7 linked regions of the Homo sapiens genome follow. The protein of the gene in region 1 purifies or fractionates together with the protein of each later gene. This does not show direct contact. Each region holds a gene or a part of one and is shown in the gene's direction. Other genes may lie near its edges.

Region 1 (3,500 bases):
AAAATTATATTAAAGGCTGGGCGTGGTGGCTCATGCCTGTAATCCTAGTATTTTGGGAGACCGAGGCGGGCAGATTGCCTGAGCTCAGGAGTTCGAGACCAGCCTGGGCAACACGGTGAAACCCCGTCTCTACTAAAATACAAAAAATTTGCCAGACAAGGTGGCGTGCACCTGTAGTCCCAGCTACCCGGAAGGCTGAGGCAAGAGAATTGCTTGAACTCGGGAGGCGGAGGTTGCAGTTAGCCAAGATTGCACCGCTGCACTCCAGCCTGGGCAACAGAGCGAGACTCAGAAAAAAAAAAAAGAAAAAAAAAAGAAAATTATATTAAAGAGAAGTAACCATAGAAATGCAAGGGGTTGCTATGCCTGTGTTTATAAGTTTAGTCACCTGAGCTCTAACGACCCAGTCTGGAAGGAATGGGCTCTGGGCCTAAGAACAACTTTGCTTGACTGGGCGTGGTGGCTCACACCTGTAATCCCAGCACTTTGGGAGTTTGAGGTGGGTGGGTCATGAGGTCGCGAGTTTAAGACCAGCCTGACCAACATGGTGAAACCCTGTCTCTACTAAAAATACAAAAATTAGCTGGGCGTGGTGGCGCGTGCCTGTAATCCCAGCTACTCAGGAGGCTGAGGCAGGAGAATCGCTTGAACCCGGGAGGTGGAGGTTGCAGTGAGGCGAGATTGCACCACTGTACTCCAGCCTGGGCGACAGAGCGAGACTAGGTCTCAAAAAAAAAAAAAAAAAAAAATGGACAACTCTGCTTCCCTGGTCTGCCCCTCTCAAGCTACAAGATGCTGGCAGGTTATTCACCCCTCCAAGCCTCAGTATCCTTATCTGTAAAATAGGGATAATAAATCCTAGCTTTATAGGGGCCTTTCCAGGATCAAATGAGCTAACAGACATGCAAGTGCGTTGTGAACTGTGGAGCATGGTGCAGCTGGCAGCAGGTTTCTGCTGTTGTTATGCTGCTGAGGACTTGAGCATTAGTTAAGTTCACCCTGATCCATGTTTGGAAAACAGCCCATGATGATGATGATTATTGAGGGGGATTCACAGAGGATAGAGTCTCACCTTTGTCCCACAGGAGGACTCAGACATAAGAAAAAGTTAAAAAAACAGGCCAGGCACGGTGGCTCACGCCTGTAATCCCAGCACTTTGGGAGGCTGAGGCGGGCGGATCACAAGGTCAGGAGATTGAGACCATCCTGGCTAACATGGTGAAACCCTGTCTCTACTAAAAAATACAAAAAATTAGCCAGGTGTGGTGTCGGGCGCCTGTAGTCCCAGCTACTTGGGAGGCTGAGGCAGGAGAATGGAGTGAACCCGGGAGGCGGAGCTTGCAATGAGCCGAGATCGCGTCACTGCACTCTAGCCTGGGCGACAGAGCGAGACTCCAGCTCAAAAAAAAAAAAAAAAACAAAAAAGAACAAGTTAAAAAAAACAAAAACAAACAGGAATCCATATCTTCCAGAAATATCACCTGGACTCTAGACAAGTGTGTGGGTAGGAAGTGTTTCTGGGACAGATGCCAGGATTGGAGCCCAGCAGATAATCAGGGGAGGCTTTCTGGAGGAGGCGAGCGCCTATGGAAGGAGGGCAGGGTCCTGGCTAATCTGAATGGGAAGAGAAGTAACAGGAAGGCTGCTATGTGCTATATATACCCTGGCCAGGCATTTTCATCAAAGTCTTCCTATGTCCTTACAGCAACCTGGGAGGTGGACAGTTACCACCATTTGTAGGTGAGAAAAAAGGGGTGAGAGTAAGTAGCCCGAGGTCACTCAGCTTCATTTATTTGAAGAGGACATATTCTTTACTCTGGAGTGTAAGGCACTGTTCAAGGTGATGTGAATGCCAGAGGACCAGACAGGCAAGGTCCCCATCTATGTGGAAGTGAGGTTCACAGCATCACAATGACGGAGCCACTCAGTCTGCCTCCAGAGGCCACACTCTACAAAGAAAATTATATGATGATGGCTGTGTTTCTGACTCTGGAGGCAGGTAACCTCTCTAGAGTTTTAGACAAAACCAGTTTTGGGGAAAGGGGTATGTAGTCCTCCTGAGGGTTTCTCTTGTGCAGTGGGCAGCGGCTGAGGGGTGGGAGTAGGCATGGCTCTGATACTGAGAATTTGAGAGCTACCCTGCCAGGCCTAGCTGACTTAGCCCCATGTTAACTCCAGTCAGTTCACTGTGGCCTCTCCAAGTTCCCTCTGGCCACTCAGGGAGGACTGTCCTTTCATGGTGTGGAGTTGTGGAGAGAACCCTGAGTTTGAGTTCTGCTCTGTTGTATGACCTTGGGTAAGTCCTGCCCCTCTTTGGACCAGACATGCCCTGTCTTGACAAAGATGGTTTTTTTTTTGTTTTGTTTTGTTTTTTGAGACAGAGTCTCACTCTGTCGCCCAGGCTGGCGTGCAGTGGCGAGATCTCAGGTCACTGCAACCTCTGCCTCCCAGGTTCAAGCGATTCTTCTGCTTCAGCCTGGGACTACAGGTGAGTGCCACCGTGCCTGGCTAATTTTTGTATTTTTAGTAGAGATGGGGTTTCACCATATTGGCCAGGCTGGTCTCGAACTCCTGACCTCATGATCCGCCCGCCTTGGCATCCCAAAGTGCTGGGATTACAGGCGTGAGCTACCGCGACTGGCCGACAAAGATGGGGTTTAATGGCCTCTGAGACTCTTGCTAGTTCTAGGATTCTGTGAGTTTGAGAATGGGCTGAGGGAGCAAGCCTGTAGGGGCTGGGGGCTAGGCATGGAGATGGGAGCTGTGTCCAGGAAAGGAGAGCTGACCTCCAGCCAGCCAGATAAGACACTGAGACCCAGTGGCCTGGATGTCATAGGAAGGGGAGTAAGGTGGCTGGGCGTGGTGGCTCACACCTGTAATCCCAGCACTTTGGGAGGCTGAGACAGGTGGATCACTTGAGGTCAGGAGTTCAAAACCAGCCTGGCCAACATGGTGAAACCCCGTCTCTACTAAAAATACAAAAATCAAAAATTATGGCCGGACACAGTGGCTCACGCCTGTAATCCCAGTGCTTTCGGGGGCCAAGGCGGGAGGGGATCACCTGAGGTCAGGAGTTTGAGACTAGCCTGGCCAACATGGCGAAACCCCATCTCTACTAAAAATGCAAAAATTAGCTGGGCATGGTGGCATGCATCTGTAATCCCAGGCTACTCGGGAGGCTGAGGCAGGAGAATAGCTTGAACCCAGGAGGCAGAGGTTGCAGTGAGCTGTGATCACGCCATTGCACTTCAGCCTGGGCAACAAGAACAAAAAGCTCCGTCTCAAAACAAAAAACAAAAATTAGCCAGGCGTAGTGGCAGGCGCCTGTAGTCCCAGGTACTTGGGAGGCTGAGGCAGGAGAATCACTTGAACCCAGGAGGCGGAGGCTGCAGTGAACTGAGACCACGCCACTGTACTCCAGCCTGGGCGACGGGAGTTCAACTGGGCAACAGTTTCATTCAAAACTCAAAAAAAAAGGAAGGTGGGTAAGGAGAGTCCAT
Region 2 (3,500 bases), on another chromosome or scaffold:
CACTGATACTAGTTTTGTATATCATTGTAGACATTTTTTGTGGGCATTCAAGGAAATGCATATCTTTCCTCTTACTGTTTTACACAAATGGTAGCATACTGTACACTCTGTTTTCTTAAAAATGTCTTGGGAATCTTTCCACTTCAGTATATAGTTTCCTTATTTTTTTGAATGACTGTACAGTATTTCACTGTATGGATATACCATAGATTATTTAACCATTCCCCCACTGACAGACATTTAGATTGTTTCCAGTAATTTACCGTAAACAGTGCTACGAATATGCTGTTTCATATGTGAATAAATATATTTATAGGGTAAATTCCTAGAAATGGAATTGTTGGGTGAAATAAACACACAAACACATATATTTACATAAGTATATATTTATGTAATGCGTGTATATGTGTATATATTTGTAATTATTTGTGATTATAAAATATTCTGGTCATATTAGAATGCTTTGGAAGGAAACAAGATTGAGTGTGGGAGACAGCTGCCCCTAATTAAGGTTACTGTGGATAACATAGGAGAGAAAAGGTGGTGGCTGAGAGAAAAGAATGGTCGTATTGGAGATGGAGAGAAGTACATATATTCATGAGATATATTTAGGAGGCGTAATTGATAGGATTTGGTGGTTGATATGGTACAAGGGTTGAGAGGGAGAAATGAGATCCTAAGATGACTCCCAGGGTTCTAGCTTGCCCAACCAGTGAATGGTGGTGGTGTTACCTGAAGTAAAGAACATTTAAGGATAAATAGTTTTGAGATGAGTTTAAATCACAGTTTACATTGGGACTGCTGAGATTTTCAAGTGAGAGGTCACATAAGCATTTGACAATTCTAATTCAGAGCCAAGAGCAGAGGGCTAAACTGGAGGCACGAATTTTTAGGTGTAAATTAAAGGCTGTGGATGAAATTATCTAGGGCAGTGGTTGCAAAGCAGTAGCCTACAGCTGAATCTGACTCACAGATGTTTTGCCCATACAGTGGTTTTGTTATTGTTTAATTTTGAATTAGTTGCCAATATTTTAAAATCTGAAGATTTCTCATGAAAAATCCAGATTTGGGGTTTCTCTTTAAAAATGAGAAAATGTAGCACTACTGAGTTGGTTTTCCAATATGGCAGCAATAATTGGAGCTAAGTCACAGATGATCGCAGCTCTTCTATTTCACTACAGAGCCCACCACTCCCTAAAATTATGCCTGGCCCACTTTGCTCATTTATTTCTCTGACTGTAGGCTTTTGAGCATGTGATCCCTGGTCTGGGAAGAGAGCATAGAACAGTGTTCTCATCTTGGTTGCACATTGGAATCACTGAATGATTAAAAAATGCTAATGCTGTGGTCCACCTAAGAAATTTCTTTTTCTGTTTACTTGATCTGATTTGCTGCCTTGGACGAATCTGAGGTGATTCCACTTAGCTGTGGAAGTTGAGAACCACTGACAGAGATTAAGAAAAAAGGGCTCAGGCCCAGCATTTTGAAGTTTAGTAGAGGAGGATAGCCCAGGAAGAGAATGAGAAGTGGCCACAGAGGTACAGTGGAATGACGCCTTGCTCAGAATTAAAGTGTGCAAACTTAACTGAATGCGCTCTACCATGTTTTTTATTAAATGAGAGAGAGAAAAGTTTTATTTACTTGTATACAGGTGTGCGATATTTAACGGGCCATTTAAAGGATTTTCAAGAGTAATTTAAACAATATTTGGTTTTTGTCTTAGCTGTTTCCTTCACAATCTAATTCTAGTTTAAGATGCATCATAAAAGGTGAGAGAAGAATGTTTCAAATAGAGAGGTGTCATCAAGTAAAGATGTGGAACAAAAATGATCTGTTGAATTTAGCAAGATGGAGTCTTTGACCTCAGCAAGAACCATTTTAGATTGGAAGAGGCAGAAACCAAAATGAAGTGGGTAAAAAGTAAGGAAATGGGAGTGGCAAGTGTTGGAAATTCCTTTGAGAAGCTTGCCCAAAAAGAGGAAGTGGTGAGGGAGGATGAGGTGTCTTACATGCCTACAATGTAGGTGTTAGTCTGTTGGTTACTCAAACATTTCTCCTAACTTTTTAGGGATGTAGGTCAATGGTGTCTGATTACCCCTCTCCCACGTTCTTAGGGGTCTTGTTTTGGAGACTACTTTTTACTGAGAAGAAATTTTGCCAGGACTGTTGAAGGGGCTGACTCAGATGTTGGTGATTAGGCCACAAGTTTCTTTCTCAACTGGAAAGCTGTAGAGCTCCTAAAGGCCAGTGGTGATCTGGGCTCCAGTGACCCTGACATCATCCTCCCATTGAGCTGATGAACAAAGACTATATTGTTGGTATGCTGAAAATGGAATACTTGGCTATGTTAGGGAATGTGTATCTAACTGTGAGATTCCCAGGAATAGTTTTTGCAGCTGTATTTTTTCCAATTAACTTGATATTATAGCTTAATTTTCCAGTTGCATGCATGTAAAAACTCTCATACTTTGAAGTATTTATCATTGATGGTACCTGAGGGATATGGATGTAAGTTGGAGATGTAGGCCCTCATTGAGCTCAGAAAGAAGAAAGCACTGAGCAAACTGGTTTCCAAAAAGTTGTGTGAAGGCTTCTACCTCGAAGACTTGGTGTTAGAGTGACTATTTAGGATGGGTTGTAATGCAAATGGTCACAACCAGTTTGTCTTTTATCCATTTCTGCCACATTGGCAACCTTAACCTAGCAGAGAGGCTTTTAAGGTCAATTTTGTGCTTCATATTTCTAAGAGTTGTAGCCTGCCAACAGAACAGAAAATATAAGGGGTGGAAAATGCCAAGAATTATTGGTTAAGAATGGTTTTGATTAATTGAAGGCATAAACCTCATTGCTATACTCTTGAAAACAGGAATATCATCTTGTGAGGGACCAGACTTCATAGCTGTCATTGGTTTATCAGTTAGGTGGATGATGGTTAACTTCTGTATAAAGGATGACTTTGTGACATGAAAGCAGACCTTGGTCCAAGATGGTTTGTAATGTGAGTCCATTATAAGAAAATATCTTATTTAGAAACTTGTGTATGCTTGGACAGCTGTGGGAATTCCATCATCACAAATATGGTTAGGTACTATGCCTGGCTGGCAGTATATAGAGGCAAAAGTCCATTACCAAGGTGGTCCAGAGCTCCTTTGGTTTGTGGAGGAAACAGGATAGCTGAGTGGGGAGAGGACTTGGAGTCAGTTCCTGAGTATAGTTCCTGGATTTGTCAAGGGTGAACTGTGTGATTTTTTTTAATTGAGGTAAAATTAACCATTTTAAAGTGTACAAATCAGTTACTTCAGTATGTACATTCACAATGTTGTGCAGCCATCACCGCTAATTCTGGAACATTTTCATCACCCCAAAAGGAAACCCTGTACCCATTAAGCAGTCACTCGCCATTCCCCTTTACCCCTACCGTCTGGCACCCGCCAATTTGCTTTCTGTCTATATGGATTTGCCTGTTCTGAAGATTTCATATAAATGGAATCATACAATAT
Region 3 (3,500 bases), on another chromosome or scaffold:
GCCTCGTTTGCCCTTAATGGATTGAAAGTGTCTGTGGCCTGGGCGCGGTGGCTCACGCCCATAATCCCAGCACTTTGGGAGGCCGAGGCAGGCGGAACACTTGAGGTCAGGAGTTCGAGACCAGCCTGGCCAACATGGTTCTCTACTAAAAATACAAAAAATTAGCTAGGTGTGGTGGCAGGCACCTGTAATCCCAGCTACTCGGGAACCAGCCAGCTCCCACAGTTGCCCACAACCCACCATCCGGAAGGGGCGCCAACCTGACCACAGGCTTAGCCATGTGGAAAATACCTGCTCATTTCCAAAACTGGAAAATAGAGGCATAAAGAAGAAAACAGAAGTTGCCCATAACCACAGCACCCCCCACCCACTCCACAAAAAGCCCACCATTCATATTTTGGCTGTTTTTAGCCTTTTATTTGCCTACATCATTTACACTCTTGAGATCATATTTGGATATAATTTATGTATCTACCCAAGAGGGAACATAAGTGGATAGAGTGAAGCCTTCCACAAGTACTTAACTCATTGAAATGGGGCCAACTTATACCTTTGCCACTTTAGGTGACGTTGCAGCTCACAAACTTGTGACACTCAGTTCATTCATTCATTCATTCATTGAAAAATGGCAAGTGGGAAGTAGTGGTCAGACAGCTGACCTGTGTGCCTCCCAAGAACAGGTGGGGGTGGCCATCCCCACGAGCGAACATCTGGGACATGGCTGGGAAGAGCTCCTTACACGGGAGAGGCCTGCACTATTTGAAATGTGGTGAGGAAAAACGGACAAAAATCATTTGGATGTTTTACCTAAGTAATTCCTTGTCGGAAGAGTCTTCTGAACCAATCTTGCTTTTCTTCACCAAACGCTCTATGTAATGCTCTTCAAAGTTTCCACCAACATTTGGAATTTTAATAACAACCTACACTTTTCTCCATTTCAGATTGGCCACATTGATGGAGATCCTGGTCGCAAAGGCGCATTCCCGGTGTCATTTGTGCACTTTATCGCTGACTGAATTGCTACTGAACAAAAGCATTAACAGTTATGTTCCTGTTTCGTTATTGGTACCAAAACTCTTGCCAGATAACCAGTTTCATGAACTGTTTGTATGGCAGCCCATGTTCTCTAATGCCACTGCTCTGTTTTAAAAACTCAGAGGCAATTTTTACATATCAGTAATTGTTTTTATAATTTGTGGTTTTCATGAAACATTGCTATGCATTTATTAGGAAAAACTGAATTTCCCAACAGGTGAACTGAAAAGTTATTTTAACTATTATACATAATCAAGATCCTGCCTCTACGGAATTAGCTAAACCTAAAAATGTTTGCATTAATGAATAAATTCTTCCTGCATTCCTTGGCCCAGTTCTGGAGTTGGTGACCTTTATCACAATTATTATTTTAGGCGGCCAGTGAACTGCTGCTTCAGAAGTCCATAGCCCAGCTCTGAACTTTCTCGATAAAATGCCATCAGTTCACCTTTAAAGACACACATTCCTTTGAAATCCACCCAGTGTTTAAAAAGCAACTTGGAAATTTACACATTAGCATTGTACTTTCTAGCCCTAATTTGTGAGGTTGCAGCTATCATTATATTCTGCATGTATGTATAACCTGTTGTGAACAATCATACTTAACAAAACTACTGATGGTTTATGACAACGTAGGGTAACTACAGTTCATTCTGTTCCAGGTTATATAAAACTGCATTTCCTGAATTTGGTTAAAAACTAAGGATGATGGATTGCAAAACAGTTCTTTTAAATTAGTTTATATGCTTTAGGTGTTTTGGAATTTGCCTTCTTGAACTTCCTGAGTCACACAGAAAGCAACTGTACACAGTAGAATTCTGTGGCGCAGACCATGCTGTATTAACACATCACTTGCTGTTTCCTACTGAGTGTACCACTGCCTTCCCTTCTAGCCCAGGAGAATGTTTACTCAGTTTAGTGTCTTGTATTTCTATAATACTCCAACAGGAATGGTAGTCACACTGTCTTGAAATTGAATCTGTCCATCTGTTTATAATCAAGAACATATCAGAAATATATAGGTCCCAGGTAATACTCCCAAACATCCCACTTTTTACTGTTTCAGGCCATCATATCATTCTTAAGCTACTTGGGGTGGTAGTAGAGGATTAGGTTGTCTATTATAAAACCAAAACTCATTCGTTTAATGAACTTGACTGTCATACCTCTATTTAGTAATTGCGAGGGTAAGATTCATAGTAGGAATATTGGAAATTTTGGCACTCTGAGAATAAATAGGCATATGATACCCACTTGGACTTTTAACAAAAGTAAAGGAATAAATTTGCATATAGGCTTGGAAAGTGAGGCAGCAATGCTGTTAACTGCATTTGTTGTGATGGTGCATTTGATTGAAGCAGCTTGTCTTTATTATGCAAGACTGTGTAGAGTTTTTTTTTTTTTTGGCATTGTACTTTTTGTTTTTGTTATAAAGGAAGACAGAACAAACTGGAATGTTTTATGATGTTGTATAGCAATCGCTTTTTACCTTTCAAAGTTCCGGGTAAAAATGTGTTATATCTGTAGTTTTTTGTTTTTGTTTTTTTTTAAAGCACTACATCTGTTTTCACTAATTGTTAATTTCTGTTTGAACCCTTCATTTAATTTTCTCATAGATTTAAGTAAACAGATGTATTTTGCACAGTGCACTTATGTCTATTTTAACAATCCTCCTGCATCTGTATTTTATAGTCAGCCTTTTGACCACCTGGTGCCAGCTATATAAGGAATAAAGTTGATTCATATCAACATTAGAACTCCAGTCCCAAACTAATCTGTCAGGTTCACTGGTACATAAATACCTAGGAAATATTTTTCCAGTCTACAATTTGGTGCTATTGTGCAGTAACTAATAGTACTCTTACCAGAGGAGAAATTATATTAACGACCCTGCTAATATCCTTTCTTAGTTATTTGCTCCTTGCAAATTAAAAAAGCAACTAAGAGAAAGAAAAACATTGTAGATATCTATTTATATTTAAAGTTTATGTTTCATGAACTGCAGCTGCAGGATTCTGGCATTTTGCATGCCATTCTCCATCAGATCTGGGATGATGGCTCAGAACATGTACACAGACTAAGAGTAACTGTGTGATCTGTTAAGGGGTGGATAACATAATATGCAGCTTAGGATGCTATTTTGAGATGTATGATATTCAGTTCATTCACCTGATTACTTTGGTTGCAGCACAACTGTATATATTGTATAACCGAAATTGATTATTTTCATTGTCCTTAATGCAGTGATTTATAATTAGAGCATGTTTAATAAGTTTACTCTTCTTGTTAACTAGTCATTTGACTGGAAAAAAATAAAATACTTTTAAATGGACATGGTTTTATTTTTAATGTTTTTAATCTTTAAAGTTTTGTATATTGACAGTCCTTTAAAAAAAGTACACTATCATACTGTACATGGGATCTTTACATACTTTTAGCATGAGCGGTAATCTTTTAAGGTTCTC
Region 4 (3,500 bases), on another chromosome or scaffold:
CACCAACAATGTATGAGGATTCTGATTTCTCCACATCCTCGCCAATACTTGTTGTTGTCTTTCTTTTTGATTGTAGCCACTCTAGTGGGTGTGAAGTGGTATCTCGTTGTGGTTTTAATTTGCATTATCCTGGTGACCAATGAGGATGAGCACCTTTTCATGTGTTTGTTGGCCATTGGTGCGTCATCTTTGCTGAAATGTCTATTCAGATCTTTTTTTTCCTTTACTTTGTCTCATAAAACTTTTGATGATTAAGTGAACAGCACTTAGTATATTTTCTCCATTTGCCCTCTTTTGGGGACTATTTGTTTCCATGTGCTTCAACCTTAGATGTATTTAACTGATCAGTTTCAGGATCTCAGGAATTAGGAAGTGGTTCTTATGAGGCTGTGGTTCAGATTTCTGCTCTTGTTAGGCCAGTGGGCATCGCTCTGGGCAGATGCCACACAGGCTGGACTTCCTAATTCTGGCCTGCATAAGCTAATGATCCAAGCCCTCTCAATGGACAAAATGAGAACCGGCCAAGGAAGAACTGTTATCACCATTGAGCTACTGGGGAAAGCAAGTTGTAAAGGGGACTTTGTTATCCTGTCAAGGTCATTGCATTTCTAAAAATTAGCCAGTGGAGGAATACTAACCTAGCAGTCAAAGTAGTTTTTCTAGATTTAAGTTTCTGAGTGAGCCTCGTTTTACCTTTTAAAATTATAACCCCTTCTGTTTCAAATTATATATTTTTTGCCATCAGAAGAAGAGTTTCGTTCAGGAAATACGGAGACCCTGCTCTGCCTTTACCATGTCCTCCAGAGCCCTAGACTAGAGTAATGGCTTTTTGGATGGAGGTAACCAATGTAGGAGTCATTAGCGGGGAGATTGAGTGGGATGTTTGGGGGCCAGTGGCGCGGCCAGTTGTGACTGTAGCAGAGTGAAGGCGAATGCACAAAGAGATAGGCCAGGGCAAGGTCATAGGGATCTTGAATTCTAGAAAGGACTTAGAGTTTTATTCTAAGTGTGATGGGCAGCCATGGAAGGCTGTGCCATGATCGTACTCATACTTTAAAAAGATTATGTAGGCAGCTGTGTAGAGACCAAGCGTAGTGGAGCAACAATGGAGGCAAGATGACCAGTAAGGAAGCTGTTGTAATAGTTGAGGTGAGAGATGATGGCACCGTGGGCTAGGGTGACAGCATCACAGATGGTGGTCAGAGGCTGGGTATTTTTGGAAGTAGAGCCCACAGGATTTGCTGCACAGCATATGGGCTATGAGAGAAAAGAAAGAAGTCTAGAATGATTCAGATATTTTTGGCCTGAGCAGTTATGTGAATGATGGTACTATTTGCTAAAATAGTTTGCTTGGGAAGGATTAGGTTTAGGGGTAAAATTAACAATATGAATGAATGACCTAATCTTATAATGCAAAGACAAAATATTATGACATGGATAGTTCCTGAATACATTCTCATGCAAGCATCAAAGAGTATAGACGTATACAGTGTAAAAGCACCCCCTTTTCCTAGCTAACAATCATTGTTAGCAGTTTGGTATGCATTTTTTCTTGTCCTTTTTCTGCGTGTTTTTTTCATAAATGGGATTATACTATAAGGATTATTTTGTGTTTTGCTTTTCGAGTTGATCATTTGTCTTGAAGACCTTCCATGTCAGTACATGCATGTAGTGCATTCTTTTTAATGACTGCAGAGAGCTTTATGTGGATATGCCATAGTTGGTATTTACTCAGTTTCCTGTTGAAGGATATTTGGATTGTCTCTGTTGTTCACTATTAGAAGGCGTGCTGCAGTGATTATTTGCACACCTGCTTTTGTGTGTGGATTCCAGCATTTCCCTGAGATGGATTCCTTCAAGTGGAATGGTTGCTGGCTCCAGTTTTTACAAGCCCTTTGACATCTGTTGTTTAGGTCCTTTGCATCCTTGTAGCCGGTTGATAATTTGGTGCTCCTTTGAGTATGTTAGATTGTTTCTGAAGCTTAATCTTTTGGTTAAATCAGAAGCATCCTTAACAGACCCTTCTGTTAGACACTGACACTGATTTTAAAACAACCAAGGGATAGAAAAAAAAAAAAAACTTAGTGTGTGTGTATGTGTGCCAGGGAAAGAGAGATGACAATTAATTGGATGTGTCCCTATTAGCCCTGGAACTGCTTGATATGCTTTCTGAGTGGCATGTTCTTATAGGTCAGATGGGAGATGGGATGGGGCTTTGCCCATATCTAAGAGTCTATTCTAACCTCCAGGCTCAGGGACTAGGAAGGAAATCATGTTTATTTAGGGTGAGAACAACAGCATTAGCAGCCAGAGGAATTTTTACAAATTATAGTGACTGGGGTTTACACATTTTTGTAGCACCTCAGAATGGAGAGAGAGGAAATGGTAAGGAAAACAGCTTGGCAGTGTGGGCCACGAGCTGTCATGGCATGTTTGTGTCTGGCTCATTTCACCTTGATTGGAAGGCACAGAATGCTGCCCTGGGTAAGCTGGAGACTGGGCAGTTTCCTGCTATATTTAGAAAGAGGAGATTCCTGGGGTTAGGGTGGTGTGTGTGTGTGTGTGTGTGTTTTCTTTGCCAGATAGACAAAGGTTTGAGGGGTTTGTGAATTCCACACCAAACTGTTAACTAGCTGGTTTCTCTGGGCCAAGCCAGTAGCTACTCTTTGACTCTTGCTGCTGCCACACAGCAAAAGCTCAAAAAACTCCTATTTTATATGGTTTGAAAAGATACCGCTGGTAAGTTTCAAAACTCATCTGATCTTGCTGTCACATCTGCTTTTAAGTTTACTGCAGGCTAATTTGAACACTTTGAAAATATGAACTGCCTCCTCCTCTGAGACTTCAGATAGATCTCCAAGCTGACTGAGTTGAACTTTGGCTGTTTCTGTGCCAAGGAGACTGTCAAACAGATAGGACCAAAGCCTTAGCAAATTCCTGACTGCGTATCTCGTTATCACACTTGTGGGTCAGGGGTAGACAATGAATATTAGTCGAACAAATAAAATAAGGCATTTTTACTTTAACTCATAGCTATGTTTCTTTTTAAAAGGGTTGCCTAAATAGGTAATACCTATAAGTTGTTCATAATTCAAAAGAGACAAAAGAGAATGTGAATATCCCTCCAATGCTTCCTGTCTCCTGATCCCCACTTCTTCCTCTGGAGGCATTTTATTGGTTTCTTTGGTATTTTTCAGATGTAATTTATGCATGTGCCAACAAATACACATACACATTGTGCCATATGTGCTGTTTTACCCTTTGCTTTTAATATATTAGATATTATTCTACATTGGTACATAGAGAGCTCACTCATTGTTAGATTGCATTGTATTCTATTGTATGAATTAAATATAGTGTATGTAACCATTCCCCTAATAATAAACATTTAGATTATTTCCAACCTTTCACCATTGCAAGTAATGTTGTTGTGAACATCCTGGCACCTCTGGCATGAGGCACATGAGTGACAAATTCCTAGAAATGAAACTGCTGGACCA
Region 5 (3,963 bases), on another chromosome or scaffold:
GCTCGTACCCGGGAGTTCGAGACCAGCCTGGGCAACACGGTGAAACCTCATCTCTACAAAAACTACAAAAATCAGCCAGGCTTCGTGGCGCGAGCCTGTAGCTCGCTACTTTTGAGGCTGAGGTCGGAGGATCGCTTGATCCCGGGAGGTCGAGGCTGCGGTGAGCCGAGCTCGTGCCCCTGCACTCCAGCCTGGGCGACTGGGCGAGATGCCGTCTCAAAATACCCATAAAAACAAAAACAAAAACAAAATACTGCCTCAAATACAAGCACTAAGAATTAATGAAAGTATTCTTTTGGTACAGTTCTTTTTGTTCATCAACTGAATCACGCTGCAAGCTGTGAAGTAATTAAGGGAACTTCTGCAACTGTGCAGTAAAAGGGTAAACCTGATAGTGTATTTAAGTAGACGTACTTTCTGGTAGTTAATTACTTCTTGACACTAGGGGGCCACTAAATACAAGTCCACTCAGCATTTGATTCGGTGCACCAAAATGCCTCAGAAATTTCTGGAATCAGTCCTGTACCTCCAAAAAACCAGAATGTTATCTTCTTCTTTTCTAACAGCTGCAAAGCCCCAGTAGTTCCATTTTTCTGTACACTAAGTTTTCATTCCTCAGTATCCTTCACAATCATGCACACATTACACAGAGTGACCGGAACAAAGATGAGTCGACTTCGCCGAATGATAGAGAAAAACTTCCATACTGAGCGAACACCGAGGGGAGTCCGGAGGCCCTGTTGTCCTCTTCCGTGGCTGGCTGTGTCCGTCGCAGCCTGAAAGGTCAGCGGTACCCAGCGCTGTGACAGGGTCACAGGCGCGCGATGTCTCACAGCTCGGAGCAGTACTCACCTGGCATTAGGCCGCGTGCCGCAGGCCAGCTCTCACCGCTGGGCTCTTGAAGCAGGAGGCGCGAGCCGCGCCAAAGTCTGCAACGGCCTCAAGTCTCGACGCCAGCCTAGGCAAAAGGCAATGTATCTAAACGAAAAGAAAATAGGCTTTCTCCGCTCTACCGCCTCGGGCAGCCACACCTCCACACTTCCGGCGGTGTACCGGCCAAATGCCGCCTGCCAGCAACTTCCGTCCTCCTAGCTAAAAGCGGAAAACAGAGGCTCGGAACCGCTGCGTGGTTCTTGCTCTTCACTCGGCCGTTTTAAAGGGTGACTCTTTCCTGTCCCGGCCTGCGTGGTGTGGGCTTGTGGGTCTTTGAGACCCGAAAATTGAGAGCGTTTTCGCACTCCAGCGGCTGCTCCTGGCGGCTCTGCGGCCGTCACCATGGTAAGGAGGATGCCTCGGACGCTCGCGACACACAGCGTCTGAGTTAGTGGGACCTGAGGACTCTGGGGCGCTGGGGTAGGGGGTGAGCGGTGGTAGGCGGAAATGAGAACTGCCAAGAGAAAAGGATGGTAGACCCGTGGGGTGGGCTCTGAGGAGTGGAAACAACTTCACATTCGAGACACAGACGGTATTTGCCAGAACACAAGCTTTGGAGCAAGATTTTACTCTGTCCTGTTTTCTTTTTTCTTTTTGATCCACCGCTAAGAGTCCTAAAAATTCCTGATTTCACCACAAGCGTGGTTATCAGCCCCAGAGCCTAATGGGAATATGGTTGTCCCTTGTACAGTCTTAGATGTCAGTCCCGCCCCCTTCATTTTACTGCTGAGGAAACTGAAGGCGTCCTTGCCAAAGACCAGACAGCTAATGAATTGCGAAGCCGGGCTTAACGGCCCAGATCTAACTGCCAGGTCCTTTCTCTTTGTGTTACGTCTCTATAATCTGCGTTTCTTTGCAAAATGGCATTCCATACACCCTTCATGTGATTGCTGCAAAGTTTATGTGATAGCAGTTGGTAGCAGCACACCTTGTTGGTTGTTACTTAACATTGCTCTCTGTGCTGGACTTGGCTTTGTATCATTTTTATTTTTGCAGCCTTAAAATACGAATAGACTCACGCCTGGCCGCGTGTTTAAAACGTGTCTAAAATGCAAAAAGCATCCCATACATTGCTGGTGAAAAGAAAAATAATGCACTTTTGGAAAACGGTCTGGCAGTAAACACACGTCCACATGAAGACTTGCATGCAGTTGTTTATTGCAGATTTATTCGTAATCACCCAAAACTGGGAACAACCCTGATACCTATCATCTGGTCAGCGGGTAAACAGTGGTGTATCCATACAATAGCATACTACTCAACAATAAAAAGGATTGAAGTTCCTATACCTGCAGCAAATTGGGTGAATCCCAAAAGCAAGAAACCAGATTCAAAAGGCTATGTACTACTGTTGATCCCTGTTTCATTCTGGGAAAGGCAAAACTGTAGGGATAGGTATCAAACTGAGGGTTGGGAAAGAGGATTGACTTAAAAGTTACATAGGGAATTTTAGGGGGAAATGGAAATTCTTTGTATTTTGATTGTGGTGGTTACAGAACTGTGTAGTTAGGAAAAACTTAGAACTGTATACCTAAAAAGGACAGGTTTTACTGTGTGTAAATTATGCTTCAATAAAACTGACTTAAATTTTTTAAATGTGAAATGAAGGTGTTATTAAAAAAGCAAATTATGTCAAGGAAAAAAGATACTGTAATCAGTTCATCCCTTTTGTGGTCCAGTAGATTTTGGACCATTCCCTAATGAGATTATTAGAGATGTAAGCCCTGATGCCTCATATCATTCAAGACCAAAATTTAACTTACATCATGTGAATAAACTTAATGGTGCAAGAATCATTTAAGTAAGTGAACATTTGGATGAAACAGGGTCTTTGTGCTGTGTAAAAGAAAGCATTTTAGAATAATTGTCAGTACTTTAAAAAATTAAAATAATATTTCTTCCATCATTATAGCCACAGAATGAATATATTGAATTACACCGTAAACGCTATGGATACCGTTTGGATTACCATGAGAAAAAGAGAAAGAAGGAAAGTCGAGAGGCTCATGAACGTTCAAAGAAGGCAAAGAAAATGATTGGTCTGAAGGCTAAGCTTTACCATAAACAGCGTCATGCTGAGAAAATACAAATGAAAAAGACGTAAGTGGTCTCATTTATTTGTCATAACAAGTTAACATCTTTTGAGTAATCATTATTAAAACAGATAATCTTGAATCTTTTTTCCTTCTTGGTAGTATCAAGATGCATGAAAAGAGAAACACCAAACAAAAGAATGATGAAAAGACACCACAGGGAGCAGTACCTGCCTATCTGCTGGACAGAGAGGGACAATCTCGAGCTAAAGTACTTTCCAATATGATTAAACAGAAAAGAAAAGAGAAGGCGGTAAGCAATAACAATTGAAGTCTTTGTTTTGTTTAGGAGAATTACTTAAATTCAAATTTGAGGTTCTTGTTTCTCGGTTTAATTTCAAACATGAAGTACAGCTATTATTCCCATTATTTAGATGTTGAAGTCTTTGTAAATTTAATAAAAAACTTGCTTTCTCATCATAAGGTTTTAAAATTTAAGTTATAAAAAAAATTTATTAGAATGCCATATGAAATTAAAAAGCTGGTAAGGAGTGAATTTCAAATTCAATATTTGTCTTCCTGTTTGAAAACCCACAGTGCTATGCAGTCATAAAGAAAAATACAAATGCTTCTTATTTGTGCTGCCCTGTAGTGCCAAACTTGGTTAAAAAGTAGAATGGTGGAAAACTCCCTGAGTTGTCACAAAAAATGTGGCTTTTTAAAACACCTGTAAATAGATTAGCAGAAATCCAGATAAAAGAATATGCAGTATTTATATTTAAAGAATTATTTTTACTGCCTTACACTATTTCAGTTTTTTCATAGAATTTGCACTCAAGGGAGGCATAAAACATCTGGTGAGGATTTTGTCTTGCTAGTGATCTACAGATCCATCTCGGGAAGAAATACAGAGACATATTAAGAGGTGGAAACACTCTTCCAGTATTATGCTATTAAACATTAGTAAACACATATACTGCTTATAGAAGTCACTATC
Region 6 (3,980 bases), on another chromosome or scaffold:
CAATTTTTTAAAATGATGGCACTTTATGGAAACTGAATATACGTCATCTTTAAAAAGAGCTTTTAAAATCCCTCCTTTGGAAGTAATGCAGGTTAATAGATTAGACATTTTATGAAGAGGGCTGCATGATTTTTCTACTGCATTTCTGGTGTTGCAAACTTTGGTGAAATTATTAACTGCTATTCATTTTTTCCAACTTTTAGTTGTCTCTAGCTAGATGTTGATCATTATTACACATCTGTAAAGAAAAGAGCAAACCAACTTGAATTAGTGTTTCTTGAACTATTCATTAGAATTTAAAATTTTTTCCTAAAAGTTTTTCAATTTAGTGATCCTATTGGTAAATAAAAAGAATAAAGGCATGCAAATTAAAATAAAGGTAACATTTCTATTAGATGTTTTTAAACCCCTTTCCTTTGTGACCTAGCTTTTCTATCTTGGCTTTTCTATCTTTTCTTCTCTTCCTTTCCTTTCCTCCTTTCTTTTTCTTAAGTTTGTTTATGCCTCAGTCATCTGGTCGCACGTGGCTATGTTCCACTGTGGCAGGGCTTAGCTGGCAGTTTCAGGGATATCTTAGTTTTAATAAGTATTGTGGATTTCCTCACATCTAGGGTGGAGAGAGATTGGTTATAGGGTGATAAAAACAGAAGAATCTGTGTTGAAGGAGATGGGAAGATTTTAAGAATGCTAACGAATTTGAGCAGGGCATAAAACCAACCCATGAACAGGGCTACAGTCCTCTCAGGGTTGCCTGAAGCCTCAGCCCTGGAGGACGTCTGACACCTTACAGGTAGAGGACCTCTGTGCAGGAGCCCTCAACACCCAGGGAGGATTAGGATATAAGCGCAAACTCAAAGGTACTGTAATGGGCACCTAGCAATCAGAGGTGATACAAGGGTCTCTTGGCCCGAAGTATCCCCACCTCTCCTCGCTGGAAAGGACGCTGCCTAAGCCTCATCCCGAGCTGGGGGCGGAGGACCAAGGGTGAGAGCCACCGCCTCCGCAATCCCCCGCCCCTCGGCACCGTCGCTCAGCGCGCTCGCCGGCTCCCTATTGGCCGAGGCACTCGCCAATCCTGGTGAAGCGGCCCCGTGAGTTGGCCCTGGTTGGTGGAGCCGGCACTGAGCCCCCCTCCTGCTCCGGCCGAGCCCCCCCGCCGGGAGGGGGCGTGGCCGCGGCCGTGGACGGGCCGGAGGCGGCGTCGCTCGCGCCGCTGCGTGCGGTGTGGTGCGAGGCGGGTGCGCCGGGCGGCCGCGGCGCGGCGGGACCATGGAGCTCAGAGCGCAGCCCCGGCGCCGGCGGCGGGACCGCGGACCGGTGAGTGAGGGCTGCGGTCGCCCCGGCTCTCCGCTGTAGGCTGCTGTGGCCCTCTCGGCTCCGGGCCGGGCGGCTGTCGGGGGAGGGGCGGCCCCACGGCGAACTGAAGTTGCTGCATCGCCGCGCGCTCCGGCCGGGCGGCGGGGCCCACTGCGGGCTGCGGCGCCGCCTCGCGCCTATCCCTGCAGCCCGGCCGCATTCTCCCGGCCGGCTCCCGCGCTGGCAGGGGCTTCTCGCCGTCACGGCGCGGCCAGGCGGCCCTTCTCTCCCGCGCCTCCGGGCCTCCGGCCCTTTGCCGTCCGGTGCGCGCTCCCTGGACTCGGGACAGCCACCCGCCCTCCCCGCCGTAAGTGGCGCCCGGGCCTCCGCTCGCGCCCCACGCACGACGCCCCGGGCCGCTCCGCGTCCGGGACCTTCGCATCCGTTCAGTGTCTGCGCGCCCTCGCTGGTTCTGGTCCAGCTCCGCGTGCCCCCCGGCCCCATTCGGCCCTCGCCGCCCTGGCCTGTGCCCTCTTGGTGCCCGCGTGCGTGTTGGTTGCGGGCGTCCTCTCCCTCGAGGCTGCGGTGCCGCGTGGCTCCCGGCCTCGGAGACCAGGCCGGACTCTTGGAGTGCAGGGGAGGAGGTGGGGCGGCCCGCGAGTGCGGGGGACCGCGCGCACGGAGCCGCGGCGCGCGGGGTATCATCCCCGGGGGTCTTTACCCGCGCGCCTGGGCTTTAGCGAGGGCAGAAGCTTCCTCTCAGTTTGTGGTGCTGACGTGCAATGGCGATTGCTTCTTGATTTGGCCCCTCTGCAAGGGAGAGTTCCCTGGTGGAGACGAGAGTTCTTAATTATTCAGAAACTATGTGATGGGCTTAGGGATCAATGGGAGCATCATAGGAATTCTTTCTCATTTTAAGGTTAATTTTTAAATTAGCGGTTTACTTCCAGCAACAGTCTCGAGTTTTCAAAAACTGAAAATTAAAAAGACTACTTTTCGCAGTTCTTCAAATTAAATGCATAGCAGAACATGGTATTTTAAGATTCAGAGTCTACTTTTTATAAGGGGGAGAGGATAGCTATTTGAAATATTTTGCATCTTAAAAATTAGGTTTATCTAAAGCTTAAAATGCGACTCTATCAAAACTAAGTTCAAAGTATTGTAATTGACTAATCTTTCTATTGTCTCTAGGGCAAATTCTATTGCTTCTTTTTATATGTGCTTTACCCAACTCTCCTTTTCTAGCAGTTAAACAATGCAGTGGTTCTTTAAAGCTAGTTCTTTTATCTGCTTGAGAGGTTAAACAAACGAAAGCTGGGTTTGACCTTTCCCAAAGGCATTCTCATTGTGTCCTCTCCAGCTCCCTTCTCCCAGGGTTCTAATGACTTCAGTGTAGTACTCATTTTTCTTCATCTTGAAAGATTTTCTTAGTTGGTATTCACAAAAGCTGTGTCTTTTCACATGTTTAAATATTGGAAAGTTTGGTCAACTATTATATTTACCTTCCAACCTGTGCTTATTCTAGAACTATGTACATATAGAAATTGTTCTTGCATTTCCAGTTGGCTGACATGAAGTTGCTTAATAGCATTTGTTTTTAAAAAATCTGTTTGCTTTAAAATTTACAACCTAATAGTCAATGATGTGCTTCACTATCTTCAACAATTACGAAAACAAAGGTGGAACACACTTTGCTAAGTGGTCATGCCAACATTGTAACCTCCTATCTCTTGTCAGTGTGTCTTTGTAGTCACACGTTACGGTTCCCATAGAAACCTATGTATGGCAGGTAACCTTTTGGTTATTGGGATGTTTTGATTAAAACAATTGCGTTATAATGCAAGTATTAAATGAATTGTCCCTACTCACGGGCTAGTACTAGTGATCGTCTTTGGAATTCCAAGGACTTTCTTTGAAGAGTACTCCCAGATTGTTTTTCACTTTGGGTGGCTCTCCATTGCTGTAGACCTTGAATCTCTTTTTCTTTTCTTTTCTTTCTTTCTTTCTTTCTTTTTTTTTTTTTTTTTTTTTTTTTTGAGACGGAGTCTTGCTCTTGTCTCCCAGACTGGAGTGCAGTGGTGTGATCTCGGCTCACTGCAACCTCCGCCTCCTGGGTTCAAGCGATTCTCCTGCCTCAGACTCCCGAGTAGCTGGGAGTACAGGCGCCCGCCACCATGCCCGGCTAATTTTTGTACTTTTAGTAGAGATGCAGTTTCACCATGTTGGACAGATTGGTCTCGAACTCCTGACCTCAGGTTGATCCGCCCACCTCGGCCTCCCAAAATGCTGGGATTACAGGCGTGAGCCACCGCTCCCGGCCGAATCTCTCAACTTCTCTTCTCAGTCCGTTTTAAGGGCCCTGTTTCTTTCAAGTCAGGCTTTTTTTGGCTTTGCTCTTGGGCATGTGGAACTAAATGCTTCTGACAGCCCCACACATTCTTCTTCAGGGCTGGTTCTTTACCTGTGGCTTGACTTTATGCTGGTAATACAGAAATATTTTATGCCAGTAATACATAAATGATGTACATTATAAAATAAACAATATCAACACAGAGATTTATAGAGGTAAAAAGTCTTAAGTTTTCTTTTTCCCGTCTTATTGTTGTCCTATTCCTATTTCTTTCTTCAGAGGTAACCATAATATAGGGTGTATCCTTCTGGATTTTTTCCATTTAATACTGTAG
Region 7 (3,500 bases), on another chromosome or scaffold:
CAAGTTTTGCAAAAAACTGGTTGAACATTGAGGGCACAGGATGACTATAAAGGAATCTGATCGTTCTCACCAAATCCTTTCTCAGGTCCCATCATTAGAAATCTTGGGTAACATTAGCCCTTTAGGTATAATTATTTTTATCCCTTTATTTTATTAATAAGTCATCCCTGATTAGGATTTTATGGATTCCACCAGATAACACCAAGCTGCTCGTAAACTATCACATTTCACTGCTTTGTCAGGTTTAGACTTAAAGCAGAACTGAAGAACAGCAAGTGCCGATATCAATTTTCTCTGAACTTCCTCCTGTGGGGCGGTGAGAGAGGGATGTGGGGCCTCCTGGGGTTTGGAAGGAAGACTGTGGAGATGCGTTTTACCCTCCACAGACTGGCTTGTTTTGCGGTTGGCTCAATAGCATATCTTGGGTGTAGTAGTTTTAATAGCACTGCAGAGAGCCATAAACAAGAATTATAGCCATCATGGAATTAAAAACATGCAGTGTAGAATTAAAATTAGAAAGTGACTTTTTTTTTAACCTTGTCCAAGAAACACAATAGCATACTGCTGTATTCATCAGCATAATCTGCTTCTGCCATCTGGTGGCCATGAATAATACTGACCTATCAGACAACTGCCATGCTCAGCAAATGCTGCAGTGAGCATCCCTGTAGGTTCTCTATTTGGACAGCTGGAATAGCCTTGCTTCCACCATGAGGGAGTGGATAATGAAACACAGACAAATGAGGCTGTGGTGACAGCAGCTCTGTGCTTCTTTTGGAGGTGAGACTGTAAGGAGAGAGCTGGAGGACCAAGATTAAAACCTAGAAATTGGCTGCCTTCAAGATCTGCTTGATAGCAAACCCCCCAACAAATTTTATTGAAGGCAAGGGAGTGTTGTAGAACCTAAGAGTCAAAAAGCAATAACGTATGCTGCCCACAAGGAATCCCTGGTCTAGTGGAGAGACAGACAAGTAACCAGGTAATTTCAATACAGTGATAGGGAGGCTAAGAAGAAATGTACCAAGTCATTTCATAGAGCTTCAGGGAGGGTTTTGTGGAGGATGTAGCATCTACATGTATTTCAAGTTATTTAGGCTCTGATTACTTTTTTTCCCCCTTAGTAATTCTTTAATGCTCAGAGCCAGTAATGGCTTTATGTGATGCTATCATTTATGTTCATAAATCATGGAGAGAGAGATTCATAAGCAACTATAAATAGATAATTATATTTTATATTTCCTTTCCTTTCAAGTTGGAGGCTGCAGCATAAGTTTCATTGGTCTAAGGGAATAAGGAGCAAGATTCCACTGCAGTTTCAGGCTGTAGTGGACTAATGTTCTCCCTACCTCAGCACCAGAAAAAGGTATTATTAGGGAGCCATTAATCTAGCCTGCCTACTCCCAGCCTAGAGCAAAGAAAGATATATGTTTAAGATTGTGTAGGAGGGGAGCGATTGAATGGAAAATTGAGTTGATGTCTCCCTTCCAACTACTCCCCTCCTTTCACTTCTTCCTAACCAGTAACACCTGTAAGTGACTCTTCTGTACGGATTTAAGAATGTAAACACTTTTCCTTGTGTTACCCATTTAGAAAAGCCCACTGTTTGCTTGCATAATGATGGTGGCATTGGAGGTGGGCACTTTAACAAGGAAGACATTTATCTTAAACAGCCTTCGGATAAACATTGACTTTGGAGGCAGTTTAGCAAAGACTACCTACATGGTTTTGAAGACTTTGCTCTGATTGCTTATGGGAGCCAACATTTGTCAGAAGAATCCCAAGCAAAGGGAGATGGGGAATACTATCACATCTTCTAGACACAGACACTACGTTCAGGCAGCGAGGCACACGGACAGCCAAGTCAGACATGGATAGAATCAGAAAGTTCAAGAGTGCTCAGTTCCTAGTTTAGGGGGCAGCACATTGAATGGGGCAAAGAAAATGGAGCCAGCATTGGGCAGGCCTGTCAGAAACAAGTAACAGGACCTAGAAAAGCGCATGGCAGTAAAGGCACCCACCACAGCCCATTCGAAATACAGAGAAATGTAATACATTCTAATTTTAAAAGACTAGACTTTAATGAAAGCATAAATTCACTCTCAGTCACTCAGCAAACATGTGATGTAAATACTCCCAACATGAGTTATTTCCAGGTACCAACAGTTGAAAAATGGACTCACACAAATTCCTGAATATGTAGCAATCAGCTCCCCTGAGCCAGTGACAGCCAGCTCCCGTACCCAGTGGGTGGGCCGGGCAGCTCTGTTTTGTCTGTGCCTACTTTCCACTCCAGTACTGATGGCAGCAAATCTTCCACTATGTTCTCAACTTTTGTTGTTGTTGTTGTTGTTGCTTATGTTGTTTTGAAATAAGTCACACTGAACTCAGAAGTGAGCCCTCTTGTACAGATTATGAGATGGATCCACTGAAATGTATGCATCCAATTTCATATTAATAGTAAGTGAAAGTTCAATTAAAAACCATTCTGAAAATCTTATTTGGTATTCAAATTAGCTAAAGTAATGAAAACTCACTTTTTTTTTTTTTTACAGCCTTTTGCTAACACTCCCAAGGGGAAAAGAGAAATTGAAAATGCCAAGTGTATTTCAGTATTACTGCTTTTTCTCCTTCTCAGAACACCGGAGCCGGAGCGATCGCCGAGAGCAAAGAGCAGCTGCCCCCCTTTCCATTGCAGCTCCTCCACTGCCAGCCTACCCTCCAGCTCACAGCCAGAGGAGGCGTGAGTTTAAGGACCGTCACTTTTTAACGGTAAGTTTGGTGGCCACCTGCAGCCCTATGCTTGCTGCTGAGGAAACATCAGTTTGTCTGGGAGTCAGTTTCCTGCCTCCCAGTGAGAGAGGCTGGGCTGGCTAAGAGCTCAAATCATGGGCATTTGGGAACAAATTAATTTCCCTTCCTTTCATTCCTGAAAGAAACGCCTCTTTTTTGGAATACAGACATATTTTTTAGTTAACTGGTAGCACAATGCAGTAAAGCAAGAATAATTACAGACTAAAATCAGGAAAAAAAATACATACTTCAAACCTCGGTTCTTCTGCTTGCAAGCTGAAGGATTCAGGATAGGTTACTTATGTTCTTTGCCCTCAGTTCCCTCATCTGTAATATAGGGATATTAATAGTACCTGGTTTATAGGGCTAGAGGATTAAATGAGATAAGGCATGTAAAGTGCTTAGCCCAATGACTGACTGATACAGAGTAAGACCTCAAGAAATGTTAACCACAGCTGCCACTACTGTTATTACTGGTAAAGTGACAGCATGGCTGACTTGGTGGGGTGAACTGGTAAAGAACTTAAGTGATACGAAAAATTACCATTTGAAGAGTAATCATGTCATCATTTCATGCTTTCCCATTCTCCAAAGGAGGCTAGTTCTCCAGGGTAACTTAATACCATGGTGACGTCATCGCCTCTGGGGCTTTCAGCCCTGACCAGATGGATGTGGCTGTAACTCAGCCCAAGCCCTCAAGCATGGGTCAC

The links.
Region 2: the proteins of NHSL3 (region 1) and PPP2R3A purify together in Homo sapiens (co-immunoprecipitation; one large-scale study listed by IntAct). This does not show direct contact.
Region 3: the proteins of NHSL3 (region 1) and ASAP2 purify together in Homo sapiens (affinity purification with mass spectrometry; one large-scale study listed by BioGRID and IntAct). This does not show direct contact.
Region 4: the proteins of NHSL3 (region 1) and ARHGAP26 purify together in Homo sapiens (affinity purification with mass spectrometry; one large-scale study listed by BioGRID and IntAct). This does not show direct contact.
Region 5: the proteins of NHSL3 (region 1) and NSA2 purify together in Homo sapiens (affinity purification with mass spectrometry; one large-scale study listed by BioGRID and IntAct). This does not show direct contact.
Region 6: the proteins of NHSL3 (region 1) and WASF3 purify together in Homo sapiens (affinity purification with mass spectrometry; one large-scale study listed by BioGRID and IntAct). This does not show direct contact.
Region 7: the proteins of NHSL3 (region 1) and NHS purify together in Homo sapiens (affinity purification with mass spectrometry; one large-scale study listed by BioGRID and IntAct). This does not show direct contact.

Annotation. Positions count from the first base shown.
Region 1 is NC_000001.11:32,744,830-32,748,329, forward strand, and holds part of NHSL3 (NHS-like protein 3), read left to right. Parts: intron 1-3,500. UniProt on the Homo sapiens protein: Able to directly activate the TNF-NFkappaB signaling pathway.
Region 2 is NC_000003.12:135,968,728-135,972,227, forward strand, and holds part of PPP2R3A (serine/threonine-protein phosphatase 2A regulatory subunit B'' subunit alpha), read left to right. Parts: intron 1-3,500. UniProt on the Homo sapiens protein: The B regulatory subunit might modulate substrate selectivity and catalytic activity, and might also direct the localization of the catalytic enzyme to a particular subcellular compartment.
Region 3 is NC_000002.12:9,402,312-9,405,811, forward strand, and holds the end of ASAP2 (arf-GAP with SH3 domain, ANK repeat and PH domain-containing protein 2), read left to right. Parts: intron 1-941; coding exon 942-1,016; 3' UTR 1,017-3,367; downstream 3,368-3,500. UniProt on the Homo sapiens protein: Activates the small GTPases ARF1, ARF5 and ARF6. Regulates the formation of post-Golgi vesicles and modulates constitutive secretion. Modulates phagocytosis mediated by Fc gamma receptor and ARF6. Modulates PXN recruitment to focal contacts and cell migration.
Region 4 is NC_000005.10:142,776,877-142,780,376, forward strand, and holds part of ARHGAP26 (rho GTPase-activating protein 26), read left to right. Parts: intron 1-3,500. UniProt on the Homo sapiens protein: GTPase-activating protein for RHOA and CDC42. Facilitates mitochondrial quality control by promoting Parkin-mediated recruitment of autophagosomes to damaged mitochondria.
Region 5 is NC_000005.10:74,766,086-74,770,048, forward strand, and holds the start of NSA2 (ribosome biogenesis protein NSA2 homolog), read left to right. Parts: upstream 1-1,163; 5' UTR 1,164-1,275; coding exon 1,276-1,278; intron 1,279-2,845; coding exon 2,846-3,033; intron 3,034-3,128; coding exon 3,129-3,279; intron 3,280-3,963. UniProt on the Homo sapiens protein: Involved in the biogenesis of the 60S ribosomal subunit. May play a part in the quality control of pre-60S particles.
Region 6 is NC_000013.11:26,556,503-26,560,482, forward strand, and holds the start of WASF3 (actin-binding protein WASF3), read left to right. Parts: upstream 1-1,180; 5' UTR 1,181-1,317; exon of another isoform or gene 1,318-1,663; intron 1,664-3,980. UniProt on the Homo sapiens protein: Downstream effector molecules involved in the transmission of signals from tyrosine kinase receptors and small GTPases to the actin cytoskeleton. Plays a role in the regulation of cell morphology and cytoskeletal organization.
Region 7 is NC_000023.11:17,689,700-17,693,199, forward strand, and holds part of NHS (actin remodeling regulator NHS), read left to right. Parts: intron 1-2,635; coding exon 2,636-2,769; intron 2,770-3,500. UniProt on the Homo sapiens protein: May function in cell morphology by maintaining the integrity of the circumferential actin ring and controlling lamellipod formation. Involved in the regulation eye, tooth, brain and craniofacial development.